Homo sapiens: one gene and its partner. The protein of the gene in region 2 interacts with the protein of the main gene of each other region in a biochemical or structural test. Each region holds a gene or a part of one and is shown on either strand. Other genes may lie near its edges.

Region 1 (3,751 bases), on a different chromosome or scaffold from region 2:
AGCTTTCATCATACTTCACTGCCATAGTCTTCCTATGCATTTTTTTTTTGTTTCCTTTGCAAGGTCCCCTTCTTCTAACCTGCCCTGTCTCTTAAACATGGGTGATCTGCAGGGTTCTATTCTTCATCTTGTCTTCTCACATTACAGACAACCATTGCAATGGCTGCACTTACCATTACTGCTAACTGTTACCCTATCAGTATCTGTAGCATGTGCATCTCTCCCCTAATCCAATGTCTACAGGCTAGCTCCAAATAGACATCCCACAGGCACCTCAAATTCAAAATATCCCCAAATTAAACTCATCTTTCCCCCCAAACCCAGCTCCTTTTTCTACATTCTTCTCATCTTCTACATTCTTATCTCAGTATCACACTATCCACCCAATTGCACAAATCAGAAAAATGACCCCACTTCAACCTCCTCCCAAATAAGTCACCCAGACTATTGACCAAACTTCCTCAGTATCTATTCAATCTGCCCCTTTTCTCATCCCATGTTGATTACCTTAATTTGGATTACTATCATCTCTCTAAAATGACTCCTCTGCACCATAACTGGTATAAATATGGATCTTGTCATTTTTGTGTTAATGTTCTTTCAGTGACACGTCACTGCTGCCAGTTCAAAAAGCAATCTCCTTACCATTTTTATCATCTAATGTCTGCCAGTTTCTTCTGCGACTACCTCTCATGTTAGCAGGAATCAGATTCAATAGCTATTAAGAAGTATTCATCCTTCCCCTTAAATTCTATTTTCCAGCAGCACAAAACTCTCTAGGCATTTTTTTTTTTTTTGAGATGGGGTCTGGCTATGTTGCCCAGGTTGGTCTTGAACTCCTGGGCTCAAGTAATGCTCCCACCTCAGCCTCCTGAGTAGCTGGGATTACAGGCATGTGCCACTGTGCTTGGCTCTCCATCCCCGATGAAGTCTCTCCATCCTCACTGAAGATTAAGTTATAGAACACCCTTACCCCTTGCTCTTTTCCTTTCCTTTCCAAAGTACTATTTATTACCCCAATTGTAATTTTATCTCGCCAACATGCTCTAAACCATCCTGAGGATTGAGACTGTAAGTGGTTCTTCCTTGTATCTCTAGTACCCAGCACAGTTTGTGGCACAGGAGTTCACTTAGTATTAGCTGAAATGAATTTTTAATAACTTTGCATTTTAGATCTCTATGAAGCCTTGGCATCCAGTCTAACACTCTCATTTCTCAGAAGAAGATACTATAGGCCCAGATGTGCTATCTTTCCAAAATCACAGATCTAAACCAGGTGTAGTGGTGTGCACCTGCAGTGTCAGCTACTCGGGAGGCAGAGGTGGAAGGATCGCTTGACCCCAAGAGTTGGAGATAAGCGTGTACAACATAGTCTCAAAAAACGAAACAACAAAAATCATAGGGCTTGTTTAGTAGAAGAGCAGCATCCAGACCATTTGATTCTTGGTCAAGGTGTTATCAGTGCGGTGCCTGTGATGAGTGCAATGATCAGTGTGATGAGTCCTTTGAGAGGACTTGGGAGCAGTGGGATGAAAACTGAGAACAGCTTATAAACTTATTAATTCCATGCCAGGACCTGACCTCTTAGTTATACAGGAAGAAGGTTAAGATATAACAGGGACAGTGAGAACAGGGGCCAGAAGACAGATTTAGTCTCAAAGTCAACAGTGGATCATTTACGCTGGTCCTGGGCAGCTGAAGAGGGAAGCAGGAGAAGGTTGCAACAGATCCTGAGAGCAACAAAGAATGACAGAGACCCAAAAGTGAAACGCCCGTGACTGAGAGAGGAAGGTAGTGACCCTAATTAAGAGTTTCAGGTAAATTACAGAATTCCAAAATGTGGGAATAGCAATTGTTTACCCAGGACTGAGTTTTTCTATTTTTTAAAAATTTGTGTAACTTTAAAAGCAATAGTTTAAGTGACTACTAGGCAGAGCTCATGTACTAGGGTACAGATTTCAACACTGTGTTGAAATACGGTAAATCTATCCTAATGTACAATATACAGTCACGCATTGCATAACAGCATTTCGGTAAACAACGAACTGCATATACGACAGCGACAATGCCCTCATAAGACTATAATGGAACTGAAAAATACTGCCTAGTGACACTGTAGCTGTATCATAGCTCACATCTGTGTAAACAAACCTATTCTGCTGCCAGTAATAGAAAGATGTAGCATGTACAATTATAAGTAGTACATAATACCTGATAATGATAAATGACTATGTTACTGGTTTATGTATTTACTATACTATTCTTTTCATCATTATTTTACAAAGTACTTCTACTTAAATAAAAAAGTTAACTGTAAAACAGCCTCAGACAGGTCTTCAGGGGTATTCCAGAAGAAGGCATTGTTACCAGAGGAAATGACAGCTCCATGCTTGTTACTCCCCCTGAAGACCTTCCAGTGAGACAGGATGCAGAGGTGAAGGACAGTGATATTGATGATCCCAATCTCGTGGAGGCCTAGGCTAATGTGTGTGCCTGTGATTTAAGCTAACAAAAGGTTAAAAATAAAAAATAAAAATCTAAATACAAAAAAACATATAGAATAAGGATATAAAGAAAATATTTTTGTATAGCTGTACAATGTTTAAGCTACGTGTCATTAGAAAAGGGTCAAGATGTTAAAAGTAGTTATAAAGTTACAGTAAGCAAAGGTTTGAAGAAAGAAAATTATTGAATAAAGTCTATAGTAGCATATAGTAATGTCCTAGGCCTTCATATTCACTCACCACCCATTCACACCCAGAGCAACTCCCAGTCCTGCAAGCCCCATTCATGGAAACTGCTCTATACAAGTGTACTTTTTTTTTTTTTTTTTGGAGACGGAGTTTCGTTCTTGTTGCCCAAGCTGGAGTGCAATGGCGTGATCTCAGCTCACCGCAAGCTCCACCTCCCAGGTTCAAGCAATTCTCCTGCCTCAGCCTCCTGAGTAGCTGGGATTACAGGCATATGCCACCATGCCCAGCTAATTTTGTATTTTTAGTAGAGACGGGGTTTCTCCATGTTGGTCAGGCTGGTCTCCAACTTCCGACCTCAGATGATCCGCCGCCTCAGCCTCCCAAAGTGCTGGGATTATAGGCATGAGCCACCGCGCCCAGCCAAGTTGTACCTTTTCTAGATTTAGATATGTTTAGATAACAAATACTTACTATTGTGTTACAGTTGTCTACAGTATTCAGTACAGTAAAATGCTGTACAGGTTTGTAACCTAGGAGCAATCGGCTATACCATATAGCCTAGGTGTGCAGTCAGCTATACCATCATGGTTTGTGTAAGTACACACACTCCATAATGTTCACACAATGACAAAATCACCTGGTGACACATTTCTCATAATGTATCCCTACTGTTAAATGATACATGACTGTACTAAGTACAATTTAGGAATATGAATCAGGAAAAGCACCTCTGTGTTTTAAGTGTTAAATGAAATTGTTTTGGGAGTCATTTTTGTGAAATCAGTCTGGAGCCCTTTTCCCTGGTGCTGTTGTCCACATCGGAATACTTCGAGTTAGAAAGGCCTTATCTACAAAAATATGTGTACGTACAAATGTACCCAAAGAAGAGATGGGCTGGGCCACTAGGAGTAACTCAGAACTGGCTTGCCAAGGGTGGCGCAACCTTTGCTATAATCAAGCAGGTGGGAAACCAGGAGACTATGGCTGCAGGTGTTAGCTCCAGCGCCTAGTAATACCTCCCTCCTTTCATTTTCTGTGTCTCTAACCCCTTAGCTCTA
Region 2 (3,751 bases):
GCCTGGGGTGCTGGAGGCAGGTAAGCAGAGGCAGTTGAACCCCTCATTCCCCTTGGACTGTCCCAGAGCAAATGTGGGAAGCCTGGGTCCTAGACTAAGTCAGTGTGACCTTGAACAAGGCCCCAAATCAACTCTTCGTTGCCTCACTATCCCACCTGGGGGTGCAACAGGTGGTTCAGGGGCTGTCATGGAGGTGAGGGCAGGCAGCTCCACTTTTATCTCTTAAATAAACTTCTGGGTCACTAAGCATTTGCAAAGGGGTTCTACAGCCAAAAGCGCCTGAAAACCCCCAGATCGCACCTTCCTCCTTTGAGTCCTTCCCGTCTCTGTCGTTCAGAGGGTATGGGGAAGTCTCCTCCAAAGGGTGCTGCAAAGCTGGAGTTTTGGGGGGCAGGGGCAGGATATCACTGCCAAGCCAGGAATGAGCCGAGCAGGGACTCAGACAGCCTTGAGTCCCAGCCTCGCCCTGCTGCACAGAACTCTCAGCACCTCCAAGCCCCAGCTTCCGATTCTGTAAAGGATGGCACTGGTACCTGTTCTTGAGACTAGCAGAGCTGTGTGCCCAGGGACACAGCGGCTCTGGTTTGAATTTGGCTCTGCCATTTGCCCCTAGTGTGGCCTTGAGCCTCTCGGGGCCTCAGTGTCCTTGACCGTGAACAGGAATCATCAGCCCTGGTGCTCATGGCTCTTGTGGGATTAGGATGGGGATGAGGATGGGTACCAGCACCTAGAAAGCCCCTATCAATGGCAGCTCCTGGGACTGCTGCTGTTACTGCAGCTTGGCTGAGAGGATCAAATGGGAAAAGGGGCGACAAGAGGGATGGGAGGGGCGATGATCAGTGGGTGAGGGCGGAGGCAGCCTCCTCTGACCCTCATAAACCAGCCTCCCTCAGAAACAGCCCCAGAGCCACCCTGGAGGGGTGACTGTAGCTGAGGGGTTGCAGGACGGGCCAGATCCTGTCTGGCCACCCCGCAGATGGCGCTGGGTCCAGCGCTCCTCAAGCCTCAGCCACTGTGGCTTTAATCAAAAGAACAATCTGTCTGCCTCTGAATCAGACCCAGATTCCTTTCCCCACAATGTCCCTGAGGCCTCCAGGGACCCAGGCAGTCCATCCCGGCCCCATCCCGGGCCCCAGAGTCCAGGCTCTGCCTCCCCTCCCGCTCCCGTCCTAATTGCTCCAGCTGGGAGGGGGAGGGTCACTGGATGTGGAGGGAGGGGTTCAGCCACAGGGCCAGCCGGGCCCTGCCTTCCAGAGCTCCTGGAGCGGCCTGTCCCCCGGGACACCGGGACCCACCTGCAGAGGGCTTACCGCTCAGGAGAGCAGAACAAGGTGACCTGCTCCACTGGGGGTCTCCGAGACCCCCACCCTCAGGAACACTCCCGGAAAAAGCCCCCAACCCAGCATATATTAACCACTATTAATCACAGTCCTGGCTGTAACTGTCACCTTTTATCCTCAGGCCAACCTGGAGAGGTAGGCAGTGGCTACCTCCACTTTACAGATGAAGACACTGAGGCTCAGGAGGTGGCGTGACTGCTCCGGGTCTCACGCTTAGTAAACGGCCGCAGAACCCTGGTCGGTTTGACGCAAGACCCTGGCGGATCCCAGAGCCAAAGTAAGCGCTCACCTCCGCCGGACAGGGTAGGTGGGGTTGCCAACCCAGGAGAGCGAGGGAAGGGGGACGGCAGGGACCACTCGGGGTCCATGAAGAACGCGAGGGGATGGGCAGCGGGGAGGGAAGGAAACCCACCCCGACTCCCCATTCTCCTACCCCCACTCCCCATCCCTCCCATTCCCCCATCGCCCCCATCCCCATTCCCCCCCATTCCCACCCCCTGGCCTGTGCCAAGGGGGAGGGGAGGCGTCGTCCAGGGAACAAAGGGAGGGGGAAGGGGCGGCGCGGGGCGCGGCCGGGCAGGTTGGGGGGCAGGTAGGGGCCGCTTCCGCGGGGCGGGAATCCCGCGCCCCCTCCCCCCGAGCCTCACCTTTTATGGTAAAGCGGCGCGGGGCGGCGGGGCGGAGGGAGCCGAGGGGGCGGGGAGGGCGGACGGGCGGAGGGGACGGGAGGCCCAGCGGCTCCGGGCTCCGCTGGCTCGGGCGTCGGATCGGAGCCGCCGGGGCGCGGGCGGCCCAGGTAAGCGGGCCGGGTGGGTGGGGGTCGCGTCCCTCCGTCCCTGTCCCCGGTGCACACAGGTGACAGCGCCGGCAGTGCTCGGCCGGAGCCTGCTCGGTCGCCAGCCGGGACCCCCGGCGCGGCGCCCCTGGAGGGGCCTGCGGGTGGGGGGTGCGGTCCTCACGCCCTTTGCGTCCCAGTCTCTTGGTCTCTCTCCCCGGAGTCGGGGAGTCGGCAGGTCCGGGGCGAGGGCTCAGTGAGGCCGGCGGAGGGCCGAGTCCCAGCCCGGGAGCGGGAGCCGGGGACCCGGCGCGCAGGGCGGAAGCTCCCGCACAAAAGGCCGGAGTCCCGCACATGGATCGAATTAAAGCTCCGGCGGCGCCCAGCGGTGACCCCGGCGGCCGCCCTGCTCGGCTGCCTGCGGAGGGTCCCGCGTTTCCGGAGCCCGGGGGCGCTCCAGGCCCCTTTTCCTAGCCAGGGTCAGGCAAGGGGAGGGACGGGTCCCGGGGCTGCTCCTCTCTGGGCCTCACGCGCCCGTCGGGGGCTGAGAAGGTGTGGAGATGGGCGATACCCAGGTGTGTGCCCTGGGATGATCTTGGCGTCGGCCCCTACCCCTCACCTCCCACCCAAGCCTGAGGACCCCGGGGAGAGGCTGGGGCCGCGCCCAGATTCCTGCTCTTAATGACGCTGTAGGTTCTGTCCGGGTCCTGGAGGCACCCCCAGCCGAGCCCAGCCCCCGGGCTGCTTCTCCCTCTCAGCTGCTGCCTAACCAGCTGTCCTTCTCTTTGCACCTTCCAAGGGCCTAGACCCTGAGTCTTCTTTCCTTATATATCCTCTCAGCCGCCCTAGGGACACACTCATTCTCACTTTATGAAAAAACGAGGCCAGAGAGTTTCTGTGACCTATTCGGGGTCACCCCGCAGGAAAGAAGTGGGGCCGCGTGTGAACCCAGCTCTCTACCTCCTCTGTTTCCCTGGGGTGGGAAAGAGGTTGAGGGAACCCCTCCCCTAAGTTGCAGGGTGGGAGGGGTTGGGGCACACCCCGCCACTTCTGCCTAAATTTAATTCCGTACCCAAAGGTAGACTGCTTTATCCGGTCATTAAAGAACAAAGCTGGCCGGGAGCGGTGGCTCACGCCTGTAATCCCAGCACTTTGGGAGGCCGAGGCGGGCGGATTACCTGAAGTCAGGAGTTGGAGACCAGCCTGGCCAACGTGGTGAAACCCCGTCTCTACTAAAAATACAAAAATTAGCCGGGTGTGGTGGCGCGCGCCTGTAATCCCAGCTATTCGGCGGCTGAGGCACGAGAATCGCTTGAACCCAGGAGGCGGAGGTTGCAGTGAGCCGAGATCGCACCACTGCGCAGCCTGGGCCACAGAATGAGACTCTGTCTCAAAATAAATAAATAAATAACAAAGCTTAAGCCGGGTGTAGTGGCTCAAGCCTGTAATCCCAGCACTCTGGGAGGCCGAGGAGGGCGGATCACTTGAGGTCAGGAGTTTGAGACCAGCCTGGTCAACATGGTGAAACCCTGTCTCTACCAAAAATACAAAAATTAGCCAGGGGTGGTGGCGTGTGCCTGTGGTCCCAGCTACTCAGGAGGCTGAGGCAGGACAATCGCTTGAACCTGGGAGGTGG

The links. The genes of interacting proteins can lie anywhere in the genome.
Region 1: the proteins of FBLIM1 (region 2) and FERMT2 form a complex in vitro, tested with the Homo sapiens proteins (one study listed by BioGRID).

What each region holds. Positions count from the first base shown.
Region 1 is NC_000014.9:52,867,433-52,871,183, forward strand, and holds part of FERMT2 (fermitin family homolog 2), read right to left. Parts: intron 1-3,751. UniProt on the Homo sapiens protein: Scaffolding protein that enhances integrin activation mediated by TLN1 and/or TLN2, but activates integrins only weakly by itself. Binds to membranes enriched in phosphoinositides.
Region 2 is NC_000001.11:15,756,713-15,760,463, forward strand, and holds the start of FBLIM1 (filamin-binding LIM protein 1), read left to right. Parts: upstream 1-2,082; 5' UTR 2,083-2,136; intron 2,137-3,751. UniProt on the Homo sapiens protein: Serves as an anchoring site for cell-ECM adhesion proteins and filamin-containing actin filaments. Is implicated in cell shape modulation (spreading) and motility.